Regions from separate parts of the Homo sapiens genome. Here regions 1, 2 and 3 are each linked to region 4. The links come from fine-mapping of genetic effects on gene expression. A gene starts in region 4. Each other region holds a variant in brackets. All regions are shown on one strand. Distances are between the middles of the regions. Region 1 overlaps MANBA (mannosidase beta). Region 2 overlaps NFKB1-AS1 (NFKB1 antisense RNA 1). Region 3 overlaps MANBA (mannosidase beta). Region 4 holds the start of MANBA (mannosidase beta).

Evidence for each region. PIP is the estimated chance that this variant, and not a neighbour inherited with it, causes the effect.
Region 1: its variant is fine-mapped to the expression of MANBA in whole blood (TOPMed, PIP above 0.99).
Region 2: its variant is fine-mapped to the expression of MANBA in whole blood (INTERVAL, PIP 0.96).
Region 3: its variant is fine-mapped to the expression of MANBA in whole blood (INTERVAL, PIP above 0.99). The same link has a PIP of 0.9 or more in CD4 T cells.

The regions. Positions count from the first base shown.
Region 1 is chr4:102,632,750-102,640,749 of GRCh38, reverse strand. It overlaps MANBA (mannosidase beta), which reads left to right. Exons shown (of 17, transcript NM_005908.4): 14 at 893-1,037; 15 at 4,743-4,885; 16 at 5,705-5,962. Among named protein-coding and RNA genes, the nearest start is that of MANBA, 120 kb to the left of the region's middle. RefSeq lists enhancers at 2,126-2,626, 2,627-3,127. The variant G/A (reference allele first, on the strand shown) is at 4,864.
Region 2 is chr4:102,489,717-102,497,716 of GRCh38, reverse strand. All of the region lies in intron 1 of NFKB1-AS1 (NFKB1 antisense RNA 1), which reads left to right. Among named protein-coding and RNA genes, the nearest start is that of NFKB1, 7.6 kb to the left of the region's middle. The variant TGTGTTAACA/A (reference allele first, on the strand shown) is at 4,753.
Region 3 is chr4:102,701,061-102,709,060 of GRCh38, reverse strand. All of the region lies in intron 5 of MANBA (mannosidase beta), which reads left to right. Among named protein-coding and RNA genes, the nearest start is that of MANBA, 56 kb to the left of the region's middle. The variant A/T (reference allele first, on the strand shown) is at 4,687.
Region 4 is chr4:102,756,145-102,764,144 of GRCh38, reverse strand. MANBA (mannosidase beta) reads left to right here and starts at 3,177. Exons shown (of 17, transcript NM_005908.4): 1 at 3,177-3,427. The coding sequence starts at 3,251. RefSeq lists a silencer at 3,013-3,142 and an enhancer at 3,233-3,582.

The DNA.
Region 1 (8,000 bases), 120 kb after region 4:
TCGACTTAGTCTTTTGGTGGCCATATGCACCATTCTTTTTATTCCTCTGTGAAAACCCCAGCCCTATTCTAAGGCCTTCTTGTTCTCTGAAATCCTCGCTGCTCTGACCATCTCTGGGTTCTCCTCAGTGGTCCATTCATGAGCCCCTCCTCAGCACAACTCCAGGCTAAGAGCATGTGATTCATATGTGTCGGTAACGGCAGCGATAAAAGAGACTGATTTTTCCATGATGGTGTCGGTAATCAAGGGTCCTGTGTGAAGTTCTTTAGTGTCTCTTAAACAAGAACTAAATTCATTTGTCTCATTGCTGCAATTTGCCATCTGTTCTGCTACAACGAAGGAATTGCATTCATGAGAAATCTTACATTACCAAAAATCATGACATCAAAACAATTGTTTGACTAGAAAAAATAATTAGGGATTGGATAATATCAGACTCATAATAACAATGTTATTTTTCTTATAGAATTTTTTCTAGTAAAAGTTTTTCTTAAAAATAGCTATGAAGGTATTAGCAAAATTTTTCAGTGAAAATAATCTAGTTTTGGACTATATATAGCATTTGCTCTGGAATAGTAGTCTTTGTTTTTCTTTACGGCCTACACTATCATTAGCAGAGAACCTTTTACACCATCCTATTTCCATTGTCACCATAATGAAACACCAAGTCTACCAGACAAACCCACTGTTACAGACAACAGCTTCTCTCATGCTAAGGGGCTAGTTACAGATCTAGTATAATGTATTCCTAATACTAATTAAATTCCCTAATTTTATCCAAATTGCTCCAAAAAGAAAAAACCCAAAACAAAACTAAACCCTGTATTTTTCTCAGATCTAGGCAGTCTACATCAAACAATAACACCTGTGTATGAATGTTTTCCTGAATCAGGTGATGCAGGCCCAGTGTGTCAAAACAGAAACTGAATTCTACCGCCGTAGTCGCAGCGAGATAGTGGATCAGCAAGGGCACACGATGGGGGCACTTTATTGGCAGTTGAATGACATCTGGCAAGCTCCTTCCTGGGCTTCTCTTGGTAAGCATTTCAGCGTTCTTTGTGCGAGTGAGAGAAAGCAACACTGTGGGGAGAGGGACTGAGAAAGCACAGTGCTGGAGGGGTCAGATTAGCCCAGGCAGAACTATGACCAAAAGAGTCATTCTTTAAAAAGCCTGCCTAGGAACTACAGCCACCCAACTCACCTTAGTAGCCTTTCCATGAGCCTTAGGGTCAACCTAATTATGGGTTCTGTGCTGTGCAAAGTTGCAACAGCAGGCTAAGCATGGGATAGATTCCTATACAAAAGTCTCAGCCATGTGTCTTGTTATTACGCATAGAATTTTGAATTTATTTAAGAGGGCATTCCAGGGCTAAAGAAGCATGAACTTAAGCATCCCTTCTTCTGTGTTGGAGAATTCAATCAGGTAGAAGTTTGGCCCGCTTATGTGTTAAAGTTTCCCTTTCTCTGATTCACCTTTAAGGACAAATAAAGATGTCCTTTAAGGACATAATGAAGATGTCTCTTAAGGCCATCTTTATTATGCCCTGTTTAGCTCTTGGGGAAAAGCTAGTAGAGGCAGAATCCCGAATGGGAAAGGTGACCAGTTGAAACAGTTCAACTAGCAACAGGTGAGATGACTGGCATGGAACCTGCAGTTCGAATTATCCCATCTATTCTGGTACATTAAAAAAAATTAAGGAATAATAGTCTTTGCCCTTCACTAGAGATGACTTGAAACAAAGTTCAGTTAATAATGTAAAGAATAGTTTGGGGTCAAAAACGAGGCAAGGCCACAAAGTAGAAAGGTTGGGTGAGGTTCTTTTTGTTTTTTTTGAGACAGAGTCTTGTTCTGACACCCAGGCTAGAGTGCAGGGGTGAGGCTCTTAAACTGGCTGTGAATGCAGATCAAAAGAAATTCATTCCAAACATGTTTTCATTAGTGCCAGATGGATGACTCTTACAGAGAATTGGATTTCTAATCAAATTTCTCTGACCAAACTCTTTATCAGCACCAACCAGATAAGAGAGCATTGAATGAGAATCAGGGGTAGAATTGGGGGGAAAATCCTTCTGGGATGCTGGAAAGGTAGGCAAAGAGATAACTGTTCAGAGACTCTTGGATACTGATCCTGCTTTCTGTCTGTGGATGAGGTTGTGGACTGAAACTGAGTTCGATTCAAGAAATGGGAGAGCCCAATTTTTGTAAATATTCCTTTAAGTGATCCCATGCAGATTATTCCTGAGTTCCTCAGGAAGAGTAGGTCTGTGGGAAACAAGACACTCAAACTCTAAGTGGTTTTTTGTTTTGTTTTGTTTTTTTGTTGAGATGGTCTCACTCTGCTTTTGCCCAGGCTGGAGTGCAGTGGTGCAATCATGGCTCACTGTAGCCTCCACCCCACAGGCTCAAGCCTTCCTCCCACCTCAACTTCCTGAGTACCTGGGTCTATAGCTGCATACCACCATGCCTGGCTCATTTTTGTATTTTTTTTCTGGAGACAGGGTTTTGCCATGTTGCCCAGGCTGGTCTTGAACACCTGGTCTGAAGCAGTCTACCCTCCTCAGCTTCCCAAAGTGTTGGGATTACAGGCATGAGCCACCGCACCTGGCCTAAAAGTGCTTTGTTAATTCCCTCACTCCACAACAACAATCCACACAGAAGACTTCTGTGACCAAATATATGGGAAACTTCCCCCACACACCAAGCAAGCAATCACTTCTGCAGTGGACACCATGCGAGTGCCCTCCAATTTAAGTCTGACACTATCTACCTGCAGATTGCATCAGATTCCATAGGTTGAGAACTCAGTTCCACAAAGCTGCCTTCCCTCTTTAGACAGCAGTCGCAAGTCTGGGCCTCTAGAACTTCTGACTGACCAGCTTCAAGCTGGGGTTCCCATGACCCCTTCTTTGGGTTTAATTTGCTGGAATGGCTCACAGAACTCAAGGAAACATTCTAACTGCTGTATTACAGAGGATGTTTTAAAAGACACAAATAAACAGCCGTATGAAGAGATATATGGGGTGAAGTCTGGAAGGGTCCTGAGTGCAGGAACTTTATCCCTGTGAGGCTGGGGTGTGCCACCCTCCAGGCATGTAGATGAATACTTGTTCCTCTTTCTGTCAGCCTTCACATGGTCAGCTATGTGGAAGTTCTTTGAACTCTGTCCTCTTGGGCGTTATAGGGAGACTTCATTGGACAGCCATGATTGATAACCATGTAGAAATGTGATTGGACAAAGCGGGTATGATCTAATACCATTAGACTGAGTGGGGAAACACAGCAAGGCCTGTCCATTCAGCTTCTTGGCCTCTCTGTGAAGCATTTCCTCCTCCAGGGTATGAGGCAGGACACCTTCTGAATGAGTGTCTTATGACCCACAATCGGATTAGAGACCTGCCTTGGGCTGGTGAAAGGAGGGAAGGAGATCAGAGAGATAGATTCTGTTTTCTGAGGCCTGCTTTTGAGTCCTAAAGCTTCTCAACATTATAACAAGAGTCTGTAACAAGGGCTATGGTAGTTGTGAGCTAGGAACCTGTATTAGTCTGTTCTCATGCTGCTGATGAAGACATACCTGAGACTGGTAATTTGTAAAGAAAAAGAGGTTTAATGGACTCACAGTTCCACATGGCTGGGAAGACCTCACAATCATGGCAGAAGACGAAGGAAGAGCAAAGGGACTTCTTACATGGCAGTGGGTAAGAGAGGACTTGTGCAGGAAACTCCTTCTTTATAAAACGATCAGATCTCGTGAGACTTATTCACTATCACAAGAACAGCATAGGAAAGACCTGCCCCCATGGTTCAGTTACCTCCTACCAGGTCCCTCCTACAACACATGGGAATTGTGGGAGCTACAATTCAAGATGAGATTTGGGTAGGGGCACAGCCAAACCATATCTAACTGTAGAAGAAAAATTATATATGTATATATAATAATATTACAGTAGGAAAACCCAAGTACCAGAGCTTGGCTGTTTTCTAAACCCTGGCAGGATCCTGCCTGCCTGAGGAGGATCACCAGCTCCTTGTACTTATTAGACAAAAAGGTTATCCGGGAGAAGCTGTGACAAGTTTTCTATATCTGCTTCTGCTCTGGGGGCCTCACAGCCCCATGTTGATTGGCTCAATAAATCCACTGCTTCTAGTGCGTGCAGTAGGGGAGGTATTTGTTATCTCTTATCACCCGAAATGGTTATATATTAAAGCAATCAATAGCTACCTAGAATCTATAAGTTATTATATACAGTCATGCACCGTATAACATTTCAGTCAACAACACAGTTCATATATGATGGTGGTCCCATGAGATTATAATACTGTATTTTCACTGTCCCATTTCTATGATTAGAATTACCTACAGTATTCAGCACAGCAATATGCTGTACAGGTTAGTAGCCTGGAGCAACAGGCTATACCATATAGTCTAGGTGTGTAGTAGGCTATACCATCTTGGTTTGTTTAAGTACACTCTATGATCACACAATGATGAAATTGCCTAACAGCATGGTTCGTTAATGCCTGCCCTGGTTCGTTAGTGCCTGCCCAGATGTTGTGAGGGTGACATGACATAATGTCCAGAGTGCTCAGAGCGCTTCACAAACATGGGTGCCCTCCACTGTTGACTCTCCCTCACATGCTCACTCCCTTAGAACCCCGATGAGCCACAAACAGCTGGGCCATTGGACAGTGCCTCTCTGACTACTTGACCTTGCCGTCTCCTGACACTCTTGATTATTTTCAGAGTACGGAGGAAAGTGGAAAATGCTTCATTACTTTGCTCAGAATTTCTTTGCTCCACTGTTGCCAGTAGGCTTTGAGAATGAAAACACGTTCTATATCTATGGTGTGTCAGATCTTCACTC[G/A]GATTATTCGATGACACTCAGTGTAAGTTACTTGGATTGTTTTCTAAGATCGAAGGAGACTTTTAGATGATTTCTTTAGTTGTTTGGTTACATTCTTTTGGGAAAATAAAAGAGAAATTAATTTAGAGTTAGAATACATATATTCAGGCTACAACCCTGCCATTAATCATGTGACCATAAGCAAAACCCTTCACATCTTGTTGATTCAATTTCTTCTCAGTAAAATGATACCAGTCTCTCTTCTTACAGGATTTCTATGAGTAGGAAATAAAATAACTAGATGAAAGCAAATCACATATGCTATAATGTGCCCCTTAAATGCAAGGTTATTTATAATTGTGAGAGGCTGGAAATAGTCCAAACTTTATAAAAAGAAATGGTTAAAAATGGCATGTTATAGTGAAAATCAGTAAAACTATTCAGAATGCGCATGTGGAAAGCAAATTTGTTTTAAAAAACAAATTTAAGTAAAAAGAAAGGCTAGAAACTCAAAGTCTTAGGTGGCTATAGTTTGGAGGACACTAATAACACTGAAAATAGGTCACATTTACAGAAAAATTACAACGCACCAGGTACTGTGCCTTCCGTGGATTATTTTTTAAATTCTCACAACAGCCTGTGACATTACTGCTGTTATTTTCATTCTACATATGAAGAAATGAAGACTGAGAAGTTACTTAGTCACATAGCTAGTATTTTGCAGGACTGGGATTAAAACTCAGGTTTCATAGTCTCTTAACCATTTCTGCTAACCTGACTTTCAGCAATTATTACTACTATTGTTCCTTAAAAACATAGCAACCAAGAATGCCTGTTTTTATTCTGTTTTATTTCTCCCCAGGTGAGAGTCCATACATGGAGCTCCCTGGAGCCCGTGTGCTCTCGTGTGACTGAACGTTTTGTGATGAAAGGAGGAGAGGCTGTCTGCCTTTATGAGGAGCCAGTGTCTGAATTGCTGAGGAGATGTGGGAATTGCACACGGGAAAGCTGTGTGGTTTCCTTTTACCTTTCAGCTGACCATGAACTCCTGAGCCCGACCAACTACCACTTCTTGTCCTCACCGAAGGAGGCCGTGGGGCTCTGCAAGGCGCAGATCACTGTAAGCACAGGTCATGGCGGAGGGCAGGGGACTGTGGCCTTGTGGGGTTCTCCTGCTCTTGGGCCAGCTCCTTGCATCCTGAGATTTGCATGTGTCCCCCTTGGTGCTGAGTTTACCTGAGGCCTGGGGGAAGATTGGCCTCTTCCCACTAAAAGCAAACACCAAATGATTTCTATTTCGAATCCAGGATTTGTCAGAGTTGCTGGTGACCACTACTCGTTTGTCCCATCACCCCTCCTTAGTGGGCAGGTGCAGTGATGGGAGAGGAAGCTCGAGTCATCACCACTGCCTGCATGCCCACTAGGTTCCAGGCTGTGTTCTAGGTGCTTCACCTCATAGTCTCTGACTTTCACCACAGCTCCAGGCATTATCATCTGCATTTTGTAAGTTTGGAAGCCAGTTTAGGAGGTTAAGTGATGAGCTCGAGGTCCTGTAGCTGGGAAGCATTGGAGCCCAGCTGACGCAGTCTAATTTTAAGTAGAGTCTATTAATATTCACTCTAGTCTCTTTGATTTATTGCTTCAAAGTAGCTCAATCACCAAATCTTTTTATAATTGCCAAGATATAAAAATGGGATGATCAGGATGTGTTGTTATAAAAATTGTGCAGCTGGAGAATTTGGAATTTGTCTAGTAGGTTGAAAACCTTTCCTTCCTTCTCCCCTACACATAGCAGTTGGAAATATATGTACACATATATGTTTTTAATTTTATTATCTTATCTTCTGGACACTCAGGAAATATCTTTCTAGAAAGTTACATTCTCTGTTTTTAGAAAATTTTAAATTTGTTTTACACTTTTACTTCATAGAAAGGGATTTTCTACATTTAATTTAGAAATAATCATATAAAAACACCTAATTCTTGTGTTTTATTTGAAAGAGCCTAACAACTGAAAACATACCTTCTTTCTATAGTCACATAATAAAATCCAAGTTATCTGTAACAACTAATAGAGAACAGAAGAAAATGACAGTCTTACATATATTTTTTTCCAAAAAAGAAAAAAAAAACCACTATGTACTGGATGAATTTTCAGTCTCTAAACTTATGATTTTGAAAACCAAATTTTTTTCTTTCCTGAGTTAGGCCTTCATTACCTTGAGGTGGGTAATTGGGGTGGGAGAAAAGCAGGGCTCTTTCTTTGTTCTATCTCATTTTGATTTCAGTGAGACTTGTCCTTCTTAAAGAGATAAAATGATAGTAATAATACTGTTAGTTAATGTTTAATTCGGGGCTAATATAGACTAGGTATTTGGCTTCTTTTCTCAAGGGAGATGCCAGAAACTTGTTCTCCCTGTCTCCCTGAAGCCAGGGTGCAAGCTTGAATCCCAGGCTCTGCAGTCAGACATACAGAGAGGAGATTTCCAATCCAACGAAGATAACCAGCATAAGCATGACACCAGCATCTCTTTCGGCCTTGGTCTTGGAGCAGCAGAAGCTGATGCTACCCTGGCAGCTTCCTGGGCAGGCTGGCATGAGCCGCATGAACCTTGTTCCTGTGGCTGCTTTAGGACCTTCACTGGAACAGCTGGGCGGTGCGATCTGGGAATTTGCCATCCAAATTCAAGCCTGAGTCTCTGATCCTGAAGAGCAACCTGATACGCTTTATTAAGCTTCTTTTCTGCTTCTATCAATATAGGTTTCCTTGTGTATAACTCAGAACCCTGAATGATAACATATTACACAAATATGTAAGGCTAAATTATATATAGTGAAAATGGCCCTTTGAAATTCTTTATGTCACACATAACATATAATGTAAGACTGAGATGTTGCATGACAAATGCACAGATTAAGAAACCAGGTTGCACTCAGCTCCGTGCTCACACAAAGAGAGGTTTGCAAACCCTCCCACTCTGGGGAGCAGCGCATCCTCACTCTGGGCATATGCTATTCGGCTACTTAAGAGGAATGGAGCCAACACGATTTAAATTGCACTGTCTCTTTTTGCTGCTATTTTGTGGAATTCACACATGTAAAAAAAATGCTAATAATGTGACTTTACTTAACTATGCAGTAAAAGAGATAAGCTCTAA
Region 2 (8,000 bases), 270 kb after region 4:
AATAGTAACACTGTAACTGGGAAAAAATCTGTGGGAATGTAATGCATTCCCACATACCAAACATACATGTAACATGTAAACATACATATTTTAGACATGTTTAGTATGACAGATTTAGTGAGATGTCCATATGGAAATGACTAATAAATATGCAATTGAAAACTCAAGGCTGCTGCTCAGAGAGACATGGCGTTGGAAATGGAAACAACTGCAAAGATGCGATAGTTGTCAGGAGAGTGTTTCTAAAACATTAGTGGTCAAAGAGTTAGGAGACAAGGGGCTAAGTACAGGAATTCGAGGAATGACTTTATTTCTGGGGTTGGTATGAGAGAGAGATGCTTAAAAACTCCTGCAGTGCCATCAAAAGTGGGAGGAAAGCTCAGAAAGCCAGAGAAGAGAGAGTTTAAAGGGTATGAGAGCTCTCAACAGTGTCAGATACTGCAGACAGTTCCTAAAGGATGGAGAGGGGAAGAGACAGTTGACTTTGTGAATTATAAAATCCTAAGCCCGGCCTCGGGGCATGGCTGTGCAGCCAAGGGCAGAAACCAGTCTTTCTTCTGTTCACTCTGCTCGCTGTCTTGGAGGAAAAGGGAACTTTATTAACTCTCAAATAGCACTGATACGCAGTGGCTGTGGTCTTACATGACTTTTTCAGATGTGTTTCAATATAATGAGGAAAACCAAGAATGAGGAGACTGACAAGTGAGTGGGAAATGGGGAAACGAGGGCATAAGTGCAAAAGAATCTCACCAAGAGTTTGGAGTGAGAGGGAAGGAAAGAGGAGTTAGTGTGATTCTTCATTTATTTGACTAACACTTATGGAGTGCCAGAGTTAATGGAAGTTTGGAAAGGTGGAGAGATAGTTTAACGAGTTAATAGCGTTAATAACAGAAAGATTAATGAGGGAGCCGGAGCCAGAAGAAAGGAGACTGTGCGGAGCTCGTAATGTAGGTGAGGAGGCAGGAACAAATCTGCCTGTGTGAGATATGAGGAGGAAGAGTACAGAGAAGAGAGGCCCCAAGAAGAGGGGGAGGATTAGGCTATAATCATCAGCTGAAATACACTAAACCAAAAATGAGAATAAACCCTTAGAGAATGTGTTTGTTAGGGCTGCCAAAACAAAATATCTCAGACTGGGTGGCTTAAACAACAGAAATATTTTTTATCGTTCTAGAGACTGGAAGTTCAACAGCAATGTGTTGGCAGCATTGGTTTACTTGAGGGCTTCTCTCCTTGGCTTGCAGATGGCCATCTTCTCCCTGTCCTCATGTGGTTGTCCCTCTGTGTCCACGTCCAAATCATTTCGTCTTATAAGGACATCAGTCATATTAGATTAGGGCCCATCCCACTGTCCTCATTTTAACTTATATACCTCTTTAAAAACCCTATCTCAAAATCCAGTTACATTCTGAGGTACTGGGGGTTAGGACTTCAACATAGGAATTTCAGGGTGGGTGACATTATTCAGCCCATAACAGAGAGATATCTTTTAATGATTTCTATGAAGGCATGGAAATAGAGACTTAACTCATCCCGGTTGATCCAGGACTATCTTGCTTTTAGCACAGAGAGTCCCTTGCGCAGGAAACCCTCAGGCTCTAGTAAACCAGGGTGATTGGTCATGCTATATGAAGCCGACAAAACTGTTCTGAGTGAAATAAGGCTAGTTACTGGACATCATTGAGACAGCTGCCAATTACTTGTTTTTATGGAGGAGGTTTGCTTCTGTTTTCTGAAAGGTTGTATATCTGGCTGTCAAATCTATTCATAAGTGATGGTCTGACACTTATACATGCCTCTTTAATAAGATAAATATGGTTTTGCATATATATAACTCCTGATAAGCTTTTACAGAAATCTGAAAGAAATGTGAAATTATGTCATTTATTAATATATTGTTAATAAATACAAGTTATTAATATTAATATACTATATTTATTATATTAATAATGTTATATGATATTTACTTTATAACTATTGCAATATAAAATTAATATTTATATAATACCAATTATATAATTATTAATAATAATATAAAATAATAATTGTACACATCAATATATAATTATTGATTTATATATAAAGCTATATATAATTTATAAGTTATATAATTCTATATTATATAGAAGTCAATATATAATTTATTATATATTATAACTATTGTATATTATATATCATATACATTTATATATAATATATTGTTTATGTATAAATTATATGTTTAATAATATAATGATTATATTAACAATAACATTAATATATAATATTAATATTAATGTTTTTGTATATTAATATAATAAGCTTGGATTTTGGAAGCATGTTATATGGCTCCCTGGGTCTCAAGATTTGATGTTTCAACAGTTACATTCCTAGTCCATTATCTTTTGTAACATTTCCTCTCTTTCATTTTCCCTAGACTTGTTTTCTGGAATTTAAATTAGGTATATGTTAGATCTTCTCAATCTAATCTCTGTGTCTTTTAATATCTCTTATCTCTTTGGATTTCATTCTGGATAATTTCTTTATATTTGCCTTCTAGTTTATCAATTCTCTTTTCAGCTATATTTCATATGCTGTTTAATATGTCAACTGAATTATAAATAATAAATTGCTTACGTTTCTTGAAACAATCTCTGGAAATTATTTGAAGCTTAGGTTAAAATTGAGTAAGGAATATTTGTGCTTCTTTTTGCCTGTTATCTGGTATACTATTAACTTGGAAAAACCTTAAATAAAATTTTTTACTTGTGTGCTTTTGATCATCACATATAGTGTAAGTGGTTATGAATTCACAGGTGAGAATTTCTTCTTTTTCTGTCCAGTGACAAGGACTAGATAGGCAGTGTTATCGTTTGAACATGTCCCCCAAAGTTCCTGTGTTGGGACTTAACTCCCCATTCAACAGTGTTGAGAGGTGAGACCTTTGAGAGCTGATTGGGTCATGAGGTCTCTACCCCCATAAATGGATGAATGCCATTATTGTAGGAGTAGGTTACTTTCTCTCTTGAGTGTCTGCTCTTTTGCTCTTCTGCCTTTCACTATGGGATGATGTAGCAAGAAAGCTTTCACAAGATGCTGGCACCTTGATATTGGACTTCCCAGCCTCCAGAACTGTGAGATACAAATTTCTTTTCATTATAAATTACCCAGTCTGTGGTTTTCTGTGATAGCAACACAAAACAGACTAAGTCAATTTCTCAGCTATTCCCTCCAGTTTTTCAGTTTTGGAAATATTTAGATTCCTGAATTTCATGCCGGCTAAGCAGTATTAATTTTTAAAAATATGTTATGTAGCATTTCAGTTATTTCCATTAGTTATTTCATTTTAGTTATTTCAACCAGGAAGGGTATACTGTCAGAAACACATGGAGTCATTACCTATTTTTAAAATATGTATATTTTATCATTCTAGCATCTATCATATATTTAACTCCTAATCTTTAATTATATCTTCTTGAGTGAATTTATTACTTTTTAGAAAAGTTTTCACCTGGCTCTTCTAACAGTTCTATTTCAACAAAACACCTGTTTGAAGTGTTTATCTTAGTTTTCCTCTCTGGCTTGCTAGTACTACTAGGGCAAGTTATTATTTTCCATTTCCTGTTCAGACCTCAGGCTCTGTATACACTGACCTATAATTACAGGACAAGTAGTTAGGGTCTTTTATGCAGTGGCAAACCTGCCAGGGGAAAGGTTTCTGCTTTTGTGGGCTGGCAGTAAACCAACTGGCAATCTGTCCACACCCAGCTGAAGCTTTAAAAAAAGTCTTTCTTCTCCCAGAGCTCCCTGGGTGCAAGGGAGAATGCTTGCCTAACCTCAGGGGCTACAAGCAACTCTTCCATGAGTGCAGCGTTCCTCCATATGACCTGTCACTACCCAGATTAGTCTGACCTTCCCAAGAACACACACAAATAAGCCCATGTAATGCTTTCCTGAAGGCATTCATAGGTTTCCTCAGGCTAACTTTCACTGGAAGCCATAAAATTGAGACCTTTGTTTTAAGTCTTTCTATAACAAGGCCCTCCAGACTACCTAAAACAGAGAAGAGTGAGAGTATCTCTTTCCTTTTAGAGACCCTGGAGCCTGTGACCTCAAGTGACCCTGCTTTAGATGCCCCTGCTTACCTGCAGTAGCATTTTTTCTTGTTGGGGAAAGTAATTGAGAAGAGATTGGGAGGGTAAATTTGGGGACCTGTGTTCCATTACTATCTTCTTACAATGCTGTGAGTCACATGTCTACTTTTAGTGACAAGGAGGGTCTATCTCATCTGGAAGACATGAATTAGTAATGCTAGATTATGGTTAGCTAAGCGTAAATTGGGGCACTGTTATCAAAAAAAGGAAGAAGGGAAGACAAAGAGTATAAACAACAGATATCACCTCTATGTAGCACCTGTAAGGCTTATGCATAGTAGGTATACATAGATATACTTATCTGTTTTACTGATAGACATATCAGTAGATATACAGATCAGTTTTTTACTGCATTTTCTTTGAAATAAGTAATATAATTAAATGCCAGGAAGAGAGTTTTTTTCCAATGGCGTATTATAAATTATCAATATAATGCTGAGCATATACTTATCTTGGTTAGGATGCTTTTCACCTAAGGTGAAAAGATGTAAAATTATGACTCAAAATGACTTAACCATTATGGAATTTCATCAGGTCACATCGTTGAAAATCTTTAGGTTTAATGTAATCACAATTCTGGCTCTCTTCCCTTCAGAGACATTTTCTTTTCTTCTGTCCC[TGTGTTAACA/A]GTTTCCTCATGCTGGCTTTTCTCTTGGTCAAAAGATGGCTTCCAGATATACTAGGGACATACTTTCTTGTTGTAAGAGATGGGGTTGGGGGATTGGAGAGAGAGAGAGAGAGAGAGTTGTTTTTGATATATATATATACCCATGAGACCATCACCATAATAAAGACAGTGACCATGTGCATCAGCTGAAAAGTTTTCTCATGGCCCTCTGCAGTTCCTCATTTCCATTCCTCACTCCTCCACATTCCTAAGCAACCACTGATTTGCTTTCTGTCATAGATTAGTTTGCATTTTCTAGAGTTTCATATAAATGGAATCATACAGTAGGTACTATTTTTTATCTGACTTCTTTCATTGAGCATGATTATCTTAAAATTCATCCACCTTGTTGTATCAGTAGTTAATTCCTTTTTATTGTTGAGTAGCATTCCATTGTATAGATAGTCACAATTTATTTATCCATTTTCCTGTTCATAGACATTTAGGTTGTTTCCAGTTTTGGGATATATTAATAAAACCACTAAAACATTTGTGTGTAACTATTTAACTGTTTATATAGACATATACTTTCTTTTGTCATGGGAAATACCTACAAGTGAAATGGCTAGAGCGTATAGTTAGCATACATGTAACTTTTTAAGAAACTGCAGACTGTTCTCCCAAAGAGTATATTATTTTATATTCCCACTACAGGAAATGAGAGTTCTAGCTCCTTCATATATTTGCAATCCTTGGTATGGTCAGTCTTTTTTATTTTAATCGTCTCAATTGATATGTTTAGTGGTATCTCATTGTGCTTTACTTTGCTTTACCCTAATGACTAATGATGATGGGCATCTGTTTATGTGCTTATTTGCCATTTGGTGAAATGCATGTTCAAATGTTTTGTTTACTTTTGGTGTATTTTTTTTCTTATTATTGAATTTTGAGAGTTCATTTTATATTCTGGATAAAAGTATTTTACCAGATATATGATTTGCAAATACATATTTTTTAGCCTGTGACTTGTCTTTTCATCCTCTTTTGCAGAGAAGATTTTAAATTTGATGAAGTATAATTTGTCAGTTTTTTACTGCATTGTGGTTTCAGTGTTGTATCCACATACTCTTTGCCTGACTCAAACTCACTAAGATTTTCTCCTCTATTTTCTTCTAGAACTTTTGTAGTTTGAGGACTTAAATTCAGGTCTATGATACATTTTGAGTTAAGTTTTGCATATAGTGGTACAAGATATGGATTGAAGTTTTTTCTTTTTAGATTATTGATTTCCAACTGATTCTGCAGCATTTGTTGAAAAAAAAAACTATCCTTTCTTCACTAAATTGCCTTTGCAAATTGTTAAAAATCAGTTGTATCTGTATGTCTGGACTCTATTTTGTTCCATTGATCTTTTCTCTATCTATATGATAATACCACACCTTTTTGATTACTTTATAGCTTTACAATAAGTCTTGAAATCAGGAAGTGTTAGTCCTCCAACTTTGTTCACTTTTTCAAGGTTGTTTTGGCTATTCTAGGTCCTTTGCATTTCTGAATTCATTTTAGAACCAGCTTGTCAATTTCTACAATAAGTTTGTTAGGGTTTTGATTTGGATTGCATTAAATCTCCAGAACAACTTGGGAAGAACTGCTATCATAATAATGAGTTTTTTGTCTCATGAACAGGGTATGTGTCTCCATTTACTTGGACATTCTTTAATTTCTCATAGTTGTGTTGTATGTTTTTCTCTATTTAGGACTTTCACATCTTTTGTCAGATTTATCCTTAAGTATTTATATTCTTAGTGCTATTTAAATAGTGTTTTAAAATTTTAATGTTAAGGCCGGGCACAGTGGCTCACGCCTGTAATCTCAGCACTTTAGGAGGCTGAGGTGGGCAGATTACTTGAAGTCAGGAGTTTGAGACCAGACTGGCCAATGTGGAGAAACCCCATCTCTACTAAAAAAAAAAAATCAAACATTGGCTGGGCATGATGGTGTGCAGCTGTAGTCCCAGCTACTTGGGAAGCTGAGGCAGGAGAATCACTTGAACCTGGGAGGCGGAGGTTGCAATGAGCCAAGATTACGCCACTACACTCCAGCCTGGGTGACAGAGTGAGACTCTGTCTCAGAAAAATAAAATACAATTTTAATGTTTAATTTCAGTTTTTCATTGCTAATATATAGAAATACAATTGATTCTTATTTATGGATCCTGCATCTTGCTACTTTGATAAATTCATTACTCTAGTAGGTTTTTTTTTGTAAATTTGATTGGATCTTCTACCTAGATGATCATGTCATCTGTGAATAAAATAGTTTTACTTCTTTTTTAACCTAGATGCCCTTTATTTCCTTTTTTTTTGCCTGATTGCGCCAGTTAGAATCACTGGTACAATGTTCAATAGATGTGGTGCAAACAGACATCTTTGTTTTATTCCCAATTTTAAAGGAAAAGCATTAAATCTTTTCCTATTAAGTATGATGTTTGATCTAAGTTTTTGTAGAGGTCCTATGTCAGGATAAGGAAGTTACCTTCTATTTCAACTTGGGTGAGATTTTTTTTTTAAATATCATTAATGTGTTGGCTTTTGTCAAATGTGTTTTCTGCCTGAATTGATACGGTCATATTATTTTTCTTTTTTAGTTTGTTAATATATTGAAATTCATTGATCTTTGAATGTCAAATGAATGCTGCATTCCTAGGATATCTCCCAGCTGTTATTCATATTATCCTTTTTATATATTGTTGAATTCAATTTGCCAAAATTTTGTAAAGCACTTTTGCATCTATGTTTATTAAGGATACTTGTCGGTAGTTTTATTTTCTTGTAATGTCTTTATCTTGTTTTGGCCTTAGGATAATGTTAGCATTTTAGAATGAATTGAAAAGTGTTCTCTCCTCTTCTAATTAAAAAATATTTTAATAGGTATTTGGGTAACAGGTGGGGTTTGGTTACACGGATAAGTTCTTTAGTGGTGATTTCTGAGATTTTGGTGCACCCATCACCCAAGCAGTGTACACTGTACCCAACGTGTATTCTTTTATCCTTCACCCCCTCTTCCACCCTTCCCTCTGAGTCCCCAAAGTCCATTGTATCATTTTTATGCCTTTGTGTCTTCATAGCTTAGCTCTCACTTATAAGTGAGAACATACGATGTTTAGTTTTCCATTCATGAGTTATTTCACTTAGAATAATGGTCTCCAATTCCATCCAGGTTGCTGCAAGTGCCATTATTTTGTTACTTTTTATGGTTGA
Region 3 (8,000 bases), 55 kb after region 4:
ACATGAGCCACTGCGCCTGGCCTCTATTTTTTTGTCAGTCAGTATTGGCAGGTTGTATGTGTCCAGGAATTTACCTATTTTCTCTATGTTTTTCAGTTTGTTAGCGTATAGTCGTTCATAATAGTCTCTGGTGATCTGTTGTGTTTCTGTAGTATCAGTTGTAATGTATCCTTTCTCATTTCTCATATATATATTTTGTATATAATAATATACAAAATATTAGTATATTTTGTAAACGTGTATTAGGTTCATTTGGTCTAAAGTACAACTTTCTGATTTTGTTTATTTGGGTCTTCTCCTTGATTAGTCTACATAGGGGTTTATCAATCTTGTTTTCAAAAAACAAACTTTTCATTTCATTGATCCTTTGCTGTTTTTTTTGTCTCTATTTCATTGAGTTCTGCTCTGATCATTATTATCACTTTTCTTCTTCTAATTTTGGATTGAGTTTGTTCTTGTTTTTCTAGTTCCTTGAGGAGCATTGTTAGGTTGTTTATTTGAAATCTTTCTACTTTTTGGATGTAAGTATCTGTTGCTATAAACTTCCCTCTTAGCACTGCTTTTGCTGTATTCCATAGGTTTTAATATGTTGTGCTTCAATTTTTATCTGTTTCAAGACTTTTTTTATTACCTCCTTAATTTCTTTCTTGACCCAATTGTCATTTCAGAGCATGTTGTTTAATTTCCATGTGCTTGTGCAGGTTTCAAAGTTCCTCTTGTTATTGATTTCTAGTTTTATTCCGTTGTGGTCTGAAAAGATACTTGATATGATTTTAATTTTTAAAAACTTGTTGAGTCATTTTTTTGCCTAACATATTATCTATTCTTGAGAATATGCTATGTGCTAATGAGAAGAATGTGCATTTTGTAGCTATAATATATTTTTTAAATGTGTATTAGTTTCATTTGGTCTAAAGTACAGCTTAAATACAGTGTTTCTTTGTTAATTTTTTGTCTAGATGATCTGTGTAATGCTGAGAGTAAGATGTTGAAATCCCCCACTATTATTGTATTGGAATCTATCTGTCTTTAGATTTGGTAATATTTGCTTCATGAATCTGGGTTCTCCAAGTTGGGTGCAGATATATGTAGAATTATTATATTCTCTTGTGGATTTGATCATTTTATCATGATATAGTGACCTTTTTTGTCTGTTTTTACTGTTTTTTGACTTAAACTTTGTTTTATTTGATGTTGATATAGCTATGCCTGCTCATTTTTATTTCCATTTGCATGGAATATATTTTTCCATTCCTTTACTTTCAGTCCATGTATGTCTTTAGGGGTGAGTTGAGCTACTTGTAGGCAGCATATAGTTTGGTCATGTTTTTAAAAAATCCTGTCAGTCAATTTATATCTTTTAAGTGGAAAGTTTAATTCATTTACCCTCAAGGTTATTATTGATATATGAGGGCTTATTCCTGTCATTTTATTAATTGACTTCTGGTTGTTTTGTATACCTTTTTTTGTTTCTATTATTGTTTATCACTGTGGTTTGGTGTTTTTCTGTAGTGTTAACATTTGGGTCCTTTATGATCCTCATTTGTGTTTACTCAACCAGTGGTTTTATGCTTTTATGTATCTTCATGATGGTAGATATTGTCCTTTTGCTTCCATATGTAGAACTCCCTTAACCATTTCTTGTAGGTCTGGTCTAGTGGTGATGAATTCCCTCAGCTTTTGCTTGTCTTAGAAAGATGATTTGTCCTTTATTTATGAAGGATAAATTTGCTGGGTATGGCATCCTTGGCTGGGAGCTGTTCTCTTTCAACACTTTGAATATATCATTCCATTTTTTCCTGGCCTGTGACGTTTTTGCTGAAAAATCTGATCTGCTGTTAGTGTGATGAGGGTTTCCTTATAAGTAACTAGGTGCTTTTCTCTTGCTGATTTTAGAATTCTCTCTTTGTCTTTGACTTTTGACAGTTTGACTGTAATGTGCCATGGAGAAGGCCTTATTGAATGGATCTGTTTGGGAATCTCTGAGATTTTTTTATCTAGATATTAAATCTCTTGCCAGACTTGGGAAGTTTTCAGCTATTATTTTGTTAAATAGGTTTTCTCTCTTTGTAATTTTCTGTTTGCTTTCTGGCACACTGAAAATTAGAATATTTAGTCACTTTATGGTATTCCATATGTCATGTAGTCTTTTGTCAATCTTTTTTATTCTTTTAAAAAAGTTTTGTTTGACTGGTTTACTTCCAAAAATCTGTCCTCAAGTTCTGAAATTCTTTCTTCTGCTTTCTCTAATTATTGTTGAATAACTAGATTCTTCAGTTCCAGAATTTATGTTTGGTTCTTTTTTATTATATCTGTCTGTTTTGTAAATTTCTTATTGATACTTTGAATTGTTTTTCTGATTTCTTTTTTTTTCTGAGTTATCTTGCATCTCAATGAATGTCTTTAATTTCCTTATTTTGAATTCTTTATATGGGATTTCATACATTTTATTGGAATCTGTTGTTGGATAATTATTGTGTTCCTTTGAAAGTGTCATATTTCCTTGCTTTTGCATGTTTCTTGTGTCCTCATGTTTATATCCACGCATCTGGTATAACAACCACTTCTTCTAATTTTTTTGAATTCTCTTTTATAGGGGAGGAATTTTTCCTGAAGATGTATCTGTGGTATTGTTTGGGTAGGGCACTTTTGCTTTGATTTTGAGTGCTTGCAATAGTATAGTTTCTGTTTGATTTCTTCAGCTGTAAACAGCATCAGTGGTGTTTGTGATTTCCTCAGTGGCTTAGGGTATAGTTGTTAGTGGAGGCTGTAGTGAAGTTTTGCTGGGGATGGGGTCATCAAGAAGGCCAGTCCTTGGACTTCACTGGTGGCAGCAGCAGGCTGAGTGTGCCTGTCCTTGGGCTTCAGTGCAGTATATGCTGGCACTGGTGTTAGTGAGTCCAAGCATGATGAATCTTGGGCCTCCAGGTGACTGGCCTGCTTGGGTGCTGGCAGTGGCAGTGGTAGACCACTGGTCTGGATGGCTGGGTCTTCAGGCCCCTGGACAGCAGGTATGGCATGGGAAATGGCAGTAGCAGTGGCAGGACAATCCTCTGGTTTCCAAGAAGTCTGCATTGGTGTTGACAGTGGCTGCAACAGGCTGGGCACACTAGTCCCCAGGCCCGTAGGTGGCACATGCAGGCAGATGTTAGCTGTGGTAGTAGCTGCAGGTTTAGTGGGCCTGTCCTCAGGCTCCTGGGAGGAGTGCTGAGGTACCAACAGTGGTGGATGGGGCAGGGTCATCCCCAGGCTTCCAGACCATTTGCTCAGGCACTGAGTGGGAGTGTAGAGCCAGGGCAGGCCTGTCCTCAGACCCCTCTAGTGGTGCATGTGGGAGCTGGCTGTGGTAGGCAGGCATAGGATGATATCCAGACCACTGGTGGAATGCTTGGGTGGGGGCAGTAGTGACTGTGCTGCTGCCCTGCTCCTGGGGAGGATGGGGTTGCTTTCAGTGGCAGTAGCTATAGGTGACTGGAGAGCATGCACTTTCGCTCCAGGTAGTGGAGATAAGCAGGGTAGCCCTTCCACAGGGTGTTTTGAAATGTGCAGCAGCCCTGCTCCTGAGGGGGTGGAGTTGCTTCAGCATTGGTGGCAGCAGCCAGCAGCAGTGCCTGGCTACACTTGGGGATGTCAGTAAGTCTCCAGGAATGTGGAGATGTAGGGGCTATTAAGCCCAAAGTCAGCCTGCAGTCCATTCGGGGCTAGACTCTCAAAATGGTGCCTTGCTTTAACCGCTTAGGAGCTCCCTCTCTGGAGCAATGCCATTGCATATCTTGTAGCTCCCTATACTAGTCCTGGGGGCTGCGAGGGTGGAGGTGCTCTCTCATGGCTAGGATTGCAGGAGTCCATAATGGGAATGTAGACCACTGGAGGCCACTCACTTACCTTCTCCCAGCATTGGGGAGCCTCTCCAGGCTTTCAGCTGGTCCCTGCTAAGCAGGGTTCCTTCCTTTTCTCTCCTTCCTTACCTTAGGTGTTTTCTGTCACTTCTCTGTTGAATTTCAGTGTTTTTTGATAGGTGATCTATCTGAAGGGGTTCTTCTTTGTGGAGGTGGCAAATACCAGATGCCGCTAGTCAGCCATCTTGAAGCTCCTCCCTCATTTTTGAAATATTATGACAGTAATATATTTTGTACTTAACATAGAGAAATATATGTTTCCTGTTAAGAAGATGTGCTTTGTGCATGTTAAGCAGTAATTCCTATATTTCTAATTAATTTTATAGTTATCAATTTGGTTGTTTGATGTAATAAAATTAGAGTGTAAGCTCATGAGAGCATTAAAAGAGTTCTACCTTTAGGAGTTTCTCCAGAATTTTTTTTTTCAATTTTTATCTGGAAGACAGCAGTTATCACTGATATCAATAGACGTTTAAACATTGAAAAATAATAAAAGAATAAGCTAATGTGGTCTGGATACTTTTATGTATTTATTTGGTATATACTATGAGGCAGGCACTGTGAGAGTTACTGAAAATTTTTAAAAAAGCTTAGTTCATAATAAAAAAAGGTACATATAATTTTTATTTAAAATAAAATGTATTCATTTTTAAAATTTAAGTGTGAAATGAGGTGGGTCAAAACTAATGCAAGGCTGGGCGTGGTGGCTCATGCTTGTAATCTTTAGCGCTTTGGGAGACCAAGTTCAAAGGATCACTTGAGGCCAGAAGTTTGAACCAGCCTGAGC[A/T]GACATTGTCTCTACAAAAAATAAAAAAAATTAGCCATGTGTGGTGGTATATGCCTGTAGTCCCAAGTATTCGGAGGCTGAGGTGGGATTATAACCGCCCAATAAATTCACCTTGCCTGCTGCCTAGACAGAGCTGATTTATCAAGACAGGGGAATTGCAACGGAGAAAGAGTAATTCAGGCAGAGCTGGCTGTGTGAGAAACCAGAGTTTTATTATTACTCAAATCAGTCTCCCCAGACGTTCAGCATTTGGGATCAAATTTTTTGGTTTTTTTTTTTCGAGATAGAGTTTTGCTCTGTTACCCAGGCTGGAGTGCAGTGGCGCGATCTTGGCTCACTGCAACCTCCACCTCCCAGGTTCAAGTGATTCTCCTGCCTTAGCCTCCCGAGTAGCTGGTACTACAGGTGTTCGACACCACGCCTGGCTTATTTTTTGTATTTTTGGTAGAGATGGGGTTTCACTGTGTTAGTGGGGATGGTCTTGATCTCCTGACCTTGTGATCCACCCGCCTCAGCCTCCCAGAGTGCTGGGATTACAGGCGTGAGCCACCATGCTGGGTGGGATCAGAGTTTTTAAAGATAATCTGGTGGGTAGGGGCTTGCAAAGTGGGGAGTGCTGATTGATCAGGTTGGAGATGGAATCATAGGGGGAACGAAGTAAGGTTTTCTTGCTGTCTTCTTTCCTGAGTGGGATGGCAGAACTGGTTGAGCCAGATTACCAGTCTGGGTGGTGTCAGCTGATCCATCCAGTGCAGGGTCTGCAGAATATCTCAAGCACTGATCTAGGTTTTACAATAGTGATGTTATCCCCAGGAGCAATTTGGGGAGGTTCAGACTCTTGGAGCCAGAGGTTGCATGACCCCTAAACTGTAATTTCTAATCTTGTAGCTAATTTGTTAGTCCTGCAAAGGCAGACTCGTCCCCAGGCAAGAAGGGGTCTTTTCGGGAAAGGGCTGCTATCCATTTTGTTTCAGAGTCAAACCATGAACTGAATTCCTTCCCAAAGTTAGTTCAGCCTACTGCCAGGAATGAATAAGAACAGCTTAAATGTTACAAGCAAGATGGAGTAGATTAGGTCTGATTTCTTTCATTGTCATAATTTCCTCAGTTATAACTTTGCAAAGGCAGTTTCAGGAGGATTACTTGAGCCTGGGAGGTCAAGGCTGCAGCGAGCTATGATTATTCCACTGTATTCTGGCCTGGGTGACAAAGCAAGACCCTGTCTCAAAAACAAACAAACAAGTAAACAAACAACAACTAATGCAAACAGTAGCTATCTCTGTAGTAGTGTTAAAAATGGTTTGCATTTTATTCTTCTGTGTAACTGTCTTTTCTAAATTTCTATATTGGGCATCTGTTATATATATGTATATGCAGTAAGTGGATAAAGTAGTTATTAAAACAAACTAATTTAGTCTAGTAACTTCAGCTAACTTGATATGAAAGCCTAAACTAATTTGTCTATGGGACACTTTCTGCCTTCCCCCTGTTGAGGCTAGAAAGAGATACTGTCATCTTTGTGCTTTTTCAAGTGTTCAATTTATATCTTGACTTAAAATTAGTGAGTTTACTCCTGAAGATCAAAGGACCAACCATAGTTCCCTAACTTGTGTATGACAGAAAGAAGGCTATTAAACATTTAAAAATTAACGTGAAATTCTTGTGAATTCATTTACTTATATATATGTATATATCTATGTTTCTTTTCTGTATTCTTAGTCCTTAAAAATAGTGGTTTCTACAGGGTCTGGAGTGGACCTCTAGCAAACTCCAACAGACCTGCAGCTGAGGGTCCTGTCTGTTAGAAGGAAAACTAACAAACAGAAAGGACATCCACACCAAAAACCCATCTGTACATCACCATCATCAAAGACCAAAAGTAGATAAAACCGCAAAGATTGGGAAAAAACAGAGCAGAAAAACTGGAAACTCTAAAAAGCAGAGCACCTCTCCTCCTCCAAAGGAACGCAGCTCCTCACCAGTAATGGAACAAAGCTGGACGGAGAATGACTTTGACAAGTTGAGAGAAGAAGGCTTCAGGCGATCAAACTACGAGCTACAGGAGGAAATTCAAACCAAAGGCAAAGAAGTTAAAAACTTTGAAAAGAATTTAGACGAATGTATAACTAGAATAACCAATACAGAGAAGTGCTTAAAGGAGCTGATGGAGCTGAAAACCAAGGCTCGAGAACTACGTGAAGAATGCAGAAGCCTCAGGAGCCGATGCGATCAACTGGAAGAAAGGGTATCAGTGATGGAAGATGAAATGAATGAAATGAAGCGAGAAGGGAAGTTTAGAGAAAAAAGAATAAAAAGAAACGAACAAAGCCTCCAAGAAATATGGGACTATGTGAAAAGACCAAATCTACGTCTGACTGGTGTACCTGAAAGTGACGGGGAGAATGGAACCAAGTTGGAAAACACTCTGCAGGATATTATCCAGGAGAACTTTGCCAATCTAGCAAGGCAGGCCAACATTCAGATTCAGGAAATACAGAGAACGCCACAAAGATACTCCTCGAGAAGAGCAACTCCAAGACACATAATTGTCAGATTCACCAAAGTTGAAATGAAGGAAAAAATGTTAAGGGCAGCCAGAGAGAAAGGTCAGGTTACCCACAAAGGGAAGCCCATCAGACTAACAGCGGATCTCTCAGCAGAAACTCTACAAGCCAGAAGAGAGTGGGGGCCAATATTCAACATTCTTAAAGAAAAGAATTTTCAACCCAGAATTTCATATCCAGCCAAACTAAGCTTCATAAGTGTAGGAGAAATAAAATCCTTTACAGACAAGCAAATGCTGAGAGATTTTGTCACCACCAGGCCTGCCCTAAAAGAGCTCCTGAAGGAAGCACTCAACATGGAAAGGAACAACCGGTACCAGCTGCTACAAAATCATGCCAAAATGTAAAGACCATGGAGACTAGGAAGAAACTGCATCAACTAACGAGCAAAATAACCAGCTAACATCATAATGACAGGATCAGATTCACACATAACAATATTAACTTTAAATGTAAATGGACTAAATGCTCCAATTAAAAGACACAGACTGGCAAATTGGATAAAGAGTCAAGACCCATCAGTGTGCTGTATTCAGGAAACCCATCTCCCATGCAGAGACACACATAGGCTCAAAATAAAAGGATGGAGGAAGATCTACCAAGCAAATGGAAAACAAAAAAAGGCAGGGGTTGCAATCCTAGTCTCTGATAAAACAGACTTTAAACCAACAAAGATCAAAAGAGACAAAGAAGGCCATTACATAATGGTAAAGGGATAAATTCCACAAGAAGAGCTAACTATCCTAAATA
Region 4 (8,000 bases):
GATAGAGTGATGACTTCCAAGGTCCTTACATGCCAGGCCAGAAATTGGAAATCTATTATTGTTTTGACCCATGCATTATTTAGGAATATAATATATTATATTCCTAATTATATAATTATATTATATAATATAATTATATTATATATTTTTATATATTTATATTATTATATAAATTATATATATTTAAAATATATATTTGTATATGTATGTATATATGTATATATACAGTATATGTATGTATGTATATATACAGTATATGTATATATATACGTATATGTATATATGTATATATACAGTATATGTATATATATACACAGTTTGCTGACATAGGCCATGTGTCCTCTAGTTGACTTCTTGGACTCTCTTGGGTAGAATCCCATTATACTGGCTCAAGCCTGGTTACTTCCTACGGTGTCCTCTTGGTTTATAGGAAACTCATGCATATGCATCCTTGACACACCAAATTCTAGTGGTGTACATAGTTTCCACTACCTTCTCTCTTTGTTCTAACATTTGGGGCTTCAAACTCTGGGGAAGTATGTCAAACCTTTGGGCAGGATACTTATGGGCTATTATCCCCAGTCCTGGGGTTTAATCAGACACTATGAGTCTAAAGGCAAATGTCCACTCCACATCTGATTACTCTTTCATTTTCTTTCCCTTATTATAACTTCTGTAATATATCATGGGATTGGAATATCATTGGCCTTGGTATATACCATGGTGTTCTAATGAGTTTACCAATTTTATATATTTAGATATGAAGGAAATGTTGTCATATAGCAAAGGGCCTAACTACTTCCATTGGTCTGTTGTGACAGGATACTGACCCTACACATCATTTAATCACCGTGGGCATTATTTATCTTTTTAAACCAGGGAACGATCACTTGTTCTAAATAATTCAAGTTTTGGGAAGCATCAAATGAAATGATCAAAATGAAATCTGTTTATACAGTGTAAGTTAAAGATACCCATAACTATTTTAAACATTGCATTTGGTATCATGACTTTAAATTACATAAGTTGAGAAGTTTTATGTTATCTCTAAATAAGGTTTATTTACCAGAAAATCATGGACAAAAATTATCCTATAACAAAATGAAAACATCATGTCATCTGTGCCAATTGCAATTTTAGGAAGAGTACTTATTAGGGCTTTGATTATTCTTTGATGTTCTCTGTTGTCAAAGTGAAGTAACCTAAATGATGTTATGCTTGCATCCTGGAATGAAAGGAGGAATGAGAATCTTCTATTATTGTTTTTCTAAAAATTATATTTCTTAATAAACAGAATATATCCATATGTATCATCAAGGATGAATTTTCCTCTGATTTGGCTTAATGAAATCTCTGGGAATTATGAAAAAATTCCTTTGCCGCTCTTGTTGCCATAAACCTTGTGTTATCAGTGTTGCACAGACCATGGCTAGCCATTTAATGCCGTGAATTATGGCATATAATTTGAATTGAGAGCTTTGTTTCTATCAAAGGTAAAAATGCTTCTGGAGTGAGTGAGGAAGGCTTTGAAGCAGTGAGAGCGTTTCCCCTATAGCATCATTGGGCTCTGACAGTAGGACCTTGAAGAGGAGGGTTCTAATCCTGTCTGCCACTATGTGACAGGCAAGTCACCTGATCTTTTTTTTTTTTTTTTTTTTAGAGTCTTTCTCTATAGCCCAGGCTGGAGTGCAGTAGTGCCATCTCGGCTTACTGCAACCTCTGCTTCCTGGGTTCAAGCGGTTCTCCTGCCTCAGTTTCCCGAGCACCTGCGACTACAGGCACGTGCCACCACGCGCCCAGCTAATTTTTGTATTTTTAATAGAGACAGGGTTTCACCATGTTGGCCAGGCTGGCCTCGAACTCCTGACCTCAAGTGATCCACCCGCCTCGGCCTCCCAGAAGTGCTGGGATTACAGACGTGAGCCACCGCGCCTGGCCCCGATCTCTTTGAACTCAGTTCCCTCATCTGTAAAGCCAGCGGCTTGGGTTGGATAATCCATACTGTCCTTTAAGCCAAGATATTCAGGGCTTGTAAATAATGCTGACTTTGCAAAGTAAGATATTGCCCGGTGTCTGCAGAATCAGGCAATTCCAAGGCCATTGTAAGGCGAAACAAAGCTCAGATTTGATGAGAGAAAATTTCTTTTCAAGGACTTCTTCCGAAGCATAAATATACGGCAGATAGCGTCAACACAGGAGAAAGGCAGTCTATTTTATGCAATGTAAAATTCCGTCTTAACTTCTAGGATTACTGTTACATCCTATTGCAAAAATGGGACTCAGGTAGACCATTTGACTACAAGACCCGAAATAAGTCAGTGGTATTTCTTGGGTACTCTGGCATTGTTAGGGACGATCACATATGTTTACTCATTTTATACTTATAACACCTTGAAAACTTCAAGAAACGGAGATGGAGATTTTGCGGCTTGCCCAGGTCCCACAGCTAGTGAGTGCAGAGGATTTTAAACTCAGCTGCGCGCCTAGTGCAGGTTCCAGAACCTCAGAAACCTCCGTGGGGCTTTATGAAACATAAGGACGCAGGCCGCTAGTAACAATAGCTAACGTGAATGCCTTCTCTGGGCCAGGCTCCATGCTGCATGCTATAGTCGCATTTTCTTGGTTAGCCCTCAGAACAACCTTCTGATGGAGATACTGCTAGTACTTGTTTACTCTTTGAAGGGCGGGGTAGGCTCTGAGACCCGCGAGTTGAGCTGCAGCGGGGTGAGTGTTACGCTACCAGGTAGACGAGGGTCTGTGTAAATTTGGCGGAAGGGAAGTGGTGGGTTGTCTCCCAGTTTGGGTTCTCTGAAGGAGTGAGGGGACTCTCCAGCTATGGTCTCCACGTACAGTCGGTCTCTGATCTCCCGAGGCTTTGTGCCACTGCGCGCCCAGGGATCTTTCTGTCCCAATTACCGTGCAAGATTCTTGCCTCCAGTTGTATGTACTGAGGCGGCGGGAAGAAGCGCCGAGGGAAGGCTCAGACCGCAATGCCCCCCAGCCTGTAGCTATTCTCGGGGGCTGCAGCTCCCGCACCCGCGACGCCCGGCTTTCAGCGGGTGCAGGCGCAGCCTCCTCGTTCCCCTCCCGCCCGCGGCTGCGCCCGGAGAGCGCTCAGCTGACCTAGGGGCGGGGCCGGGGCGGGGACCTAAAGCCTCGGCTACTTCCGAGGGGGTGAGTGGCTTCACCGCCGGTCCCTTGCAGCGCTGCCTTTCGATCTCTCCACATCTCGGTGGCGCGGGATCTCAAGATGCGCCTCCACCTGCTCCTGCTGCTCGCGCTGTGCGGTGCAGGCACCACCGCCGCGGAGCTCAGTTACAGCTTGCGTGGCAACTGGAGCATCTGCAATGGGAACGGCTCGCTGGAGCTGCCCGGGGCGGTCCCTGGCTGCGTGCACAGCGCCTTGTTCCAGCAGGGCCTGATCCAGGTATGGCGTGCGGCCGACCCGCGGCGAGCCTGCGCCCGCCTTCTTCTGGTGCTGAGAGGGGCCCAGGAACCGCCTGGCAGCCCCCAGCTCTGGGCCATTCTCGTCGGTTTGGTAGTAACTTCCCCTTTGCATCTTGTGATCTGCGGGGGGAAATGCCCAAGCTATGGGGTACGGGCTTGACGGAGACTGAGCGACCGACCCATGTTGGGACATCAGTAACTCTGGAAAGGGGAAGTTTAGATAGGGGAACAGTGTTGCTACTAGCAGTTTACTTACTGCAGTCGTTCTCTACTGAAGCGTGTATACAAAGGGCATGCCGTCACTGACAAGCATAAGGTCGGGAATTACTGTCTCTACTGTCTGCACGCCACAGGGGACAACAGCGTTTTGTTAAGTAAGGGTTAACTCTATTGAGTAATGTCTCGGTTTTTTATTTTCGCTGTTAAGCGTCAGGGAGTCAGATTTGGGATTGACGCAGCACAGACGTTGTGGAGAATGACCTACAAGAGTAAAGTTGGGTTTGTCAGTGCTAGTGTGGCTAACAACGGGTAAATAATTTTTAAGGCTAACTTGGTGATGAAGAAAGGTGCTATTTCCTCTCAGGGCGTGTGTGTGTGTGTGTGTGTGTATCCCAATGGAGTCTCCAATTTACAGACTACTTGTGGGGAACGTTTTCGTGTTTGGCTGCCTGTGCGCATAGGTTTGCAAACTGACTTCCATCCTCCAACTGCTTTTGCTGTTCCCTCTTGCACAGCGTTCCCACGTGTTGTCTTTACTTGGGGCAAAATGTACTTGTAATTGATCTACTTGTGGGATGCATACATTGTCCAATCCTCATAACAACTCTGTATAGTAAGTGTTCATATCTGAATTTTATGGATAATATGGAATTATGGAACACAGAGAAATTAGGAAGGTGACAGCAACTAAATGGAAAGAAATGGAATTCTAACCCAGGTGGTCTCAACTCCATAGCCTGGTCTCTATACTATGTGGTATGCTTAGTTTGGTGTTTTAAAAAATCATGTGTTTTTGAAGCACTGTGGCTGACTTTCAGGAGCACCATTCTAAGTTTATTTGCATGACAAGGTGGTCATCTAGGGTTGTGCCAAATTTCTGACCTGGTACTTAGTAGTTTTTTTTTTTTTTTTCCTGAGATGTGTATCAGAAAGGAGGTGAATGTTGTAAATGACATTGACCATTGTCCGATGTATTTTTAGAGTAGATCATTCCCAAACTTTAGTACTTTATTTTAAGTTGACAAACTACTTGTGATAGAGAACACAGCTGACCACAGTATACTCTGAGTTTTCACTTATATCTGCTTTGAGAATGCCTGTGTTTATTTTGTAGGGTTCCTCCTTGCCTGATTTTACTGAAATAATTAAGCCAATGGGTGCTGGTACGTGAGAGCTTTGGGAGGCCAAGGTAGGAGGATCCCTTGAGTCCAGGAGTTCAAGACCAGCATGGCCAACATAGAAAGAGTCTATGAGGCCGAGGTGGGAAAATTTCTTGAGGCCAAGAGTTCAAGACCAGCATGGCCAACATAGAGAGATTCTATCTCTAAAAAAAAAAAAAAAGAAAGAAAGAATTAAGCCAATGGGAAATAATGAGTGGCTTCAGTAAGTCAGATTATTGTGCCATATTACAGAGCTAAGAAGCTAAGAAACAACGTTTGGTTACAACAGATACTTAATGAAAATGAATTTGCTCATAGTATGAAATAACTTCCTCATAGGAACAATTTGAAGAGATTTCTTAACTCTCTTCATAAATTCTTAGCAAAACCTTGAGGTTTCAATCAGGTGGCCATGGGTCTCAAATGGCAGTGGAATGAGAAATGGGAAGGCTTTTGGGGCTTAGGAAACACAAGGCCTGTTGAAAATAATCATCAGGCTGGGCACAGTGGCTCATGCCTATAATCCCAGCACTTGGGAGGCAGAGGTAGGTGGAGTTTAGACCAGTCTGGGCAACTGGCGAGACCCTGTCTCTACAAAAAATTAAAAAATTAACTGGGCGTGGTGGCGTACACCTGTGGTCCTAGCTACGAGGGAGGCTGAGGTGGGAGGATCGTTTGAGCCCAGGAGGTTGAGGCTGCAGTGAGCCGTGATCTGTACTCCAACCTGGGCAACAGAGTGACACCCTCTCTCAAAAAAAAAAAAAAAAGAAAAAAAGTAAAGAAGCAATCATCAACATCAGATCAGTATCGTTATTCAGTAATGTGAGACTGTTGTCCGACCTGCTTTATTATAACATCCCTTTTTGGTGTTGACTTGAGGAAATATTCTACCGTTTATAGTAGACACTGGGCCAAATATTGTGTTTGTGTAAGAACTTGAAACATATCTTGGTGATATCATTCATTTATTTATCTATTCACCTAGTTAATTATCTCATATTTATTTTGTACCTCTAATGTGGCAGGCACTATTCTAAGTACTTGAAATCGAGTGGTAAAGAAAACAAAGTCCTTTCCCTAATGGACATTCTAATGGAGGAGATAGACATATATACCAAATTAATAAATAATGTAAGGCAGGTGGCACACTGAAGAAAAATTGAGCAGGTTAAAGGAAGAGACAGTGAAGGCTGGTTGGAAAGCATTGCTATTTTTTAAAAAGTGGTTCAAGATAGGTATTTTGATAAGGTGACTTCTAAACAAAAAGACCTGTTTGAAAAGGTCACTTTTAAGGAGAAGTGCATTTCCAGCAAAGAGGAAAAACACAGGAGTGGGGAGGATAGAGGCCCTGAGGCAGGCACGAGCTTGACAAGTTTCAGGAATAGTCAGCAGGCCAGTGTGGCTGGAGACCTGGGAACCAGAGGGTAGGAGAGGAGTTCAAAGTCTAGGGCACATCATGAAAGGCTGTGAGCCATAGGAAACACTTTGGCTTTTATTCTACATGTGATGGGAAGTTATTGGAGGCTTTGAGCTTAGAGTAGCATGATTAGATTTGCCTTTTTAAAGGTCACTCTGTTGTGTGAAGGCTACAGTGCAGGAGAGTGGAAGCCTGGAGACCAACCAGGGGACTATTGCTGGTCTATGTATGGGCAAGAGATGACTTCTGGCTTGGACAAGCATGGTGGCAGTGAAATGGTGAGAATGGTTGTGAGAACACGTTTTACATGTAGAAACAAGAGGATTTCTTCAGTTGGATTTGTTAATGGATTGGGAGACAGAAGGGGGAGGTGCAGGAAAATACCAGGATTTTTTTTATCTGAGCTGGTTAAATGAAATTTGTATTTAGTGAGAGATTCTGTGGCTAGTCTTGGCTATTTCCTAGGTGATTCTCTGGGTTTTCTGTACAGAATCTAAACCTTTGGTTTCTTAGAGAGTCTTTTGGGTTCTCTGTGAAAAGTTATTCCTTCAGCCTGCTATTTTTTTTTTTTTGAGACGGAGTTTCGCTCTTGTTGCCCAGGCTGGAATGCAATGGTACTATCTCGGCTCACCGCAACCTCTGCCTCCTGGGTTCAAGAGATTCTCCTGCCTCAGTCTCCCAGGTAGCTGGGATTACAGGCATGTGCCACCATGCCTGGCTAATTTTGTACTTTTAGTAGAGACAAGCTTTCTCCATGTTGGTCAGGCTGGTCTTGAACTCCCAACCTCAGGCCATCCACCTGCCTCGGCCTTCCAAAGTGCTGGAATTACAGGCATGAGCCACCGTGCCTGGCCCTCAGCCTGCTATTATGCCACACAGTGTAATAGGCATTAGGAATAAAAAAAGAAATTGAGAGTGAGACTATAGTTCCTATTTTGTGGGAGGCCACTTTAGTGAGGCAGAAAACTAAATAATTTCCATATGTTATGTTAAGTGCATACATAAAGGGACCCTTGTTAGGAATGTTCTCAGCTTTTCTGTGGAATTTCTCACTGGTGTAAGTTTTGAAGCAACTGCTTCTTTTTTTTTTTTTTTTTTTTTTTTAGATAGTCTCTGTATGCCAACATTAAAATATATAGATAAGTAAGAAGAAGGTTGGAAACATCACTCCCAGAGATAACCACTATTTTTTTTGACAGCTGTTCATGTGACTAATGCCCCCAACAGTTTTATATATTTATTTATTTTTATTTTTTATTTTTTCCCTTTTTTTGTTATACTTTAAGTTCTAGGGTACATGTGCACAACGTGCAGGTTTGTTACATATGTATACATGTGCCATGTTGGTGTGCTGCACCCGTTGACCCGTTAACCTCATTTACATTAGGTATATCTCCTAATGCTATCCCTCCCCCAGCCCCCAACCTCATGACAGGTCCCAGTGTGTGATGTTCCCCATCCTGTGCCCAAGTGTTCTCATTGTTCAATTCCCACTATGAATGAGAGCATGTGGTGTTTGGTTTTCTGTCCTTGTGATAGTTTGCTCAGAATGATGGTTTGCAGCTTCATCCATGTCCCTACAAAGGACATGAACTCATCCTTTTTTATGGCTGCAAGGTATTCCATGGTGTATATGTGCCACATTTTCTTAATCCAGTCTATCATTGTTGGACATTTGGGTTGGTTACAAGTCTTTGCTATTGTGAATAGTGCTGCAGTAAACATACATGTGCATGTGTCTTTATAGTAGCATGATT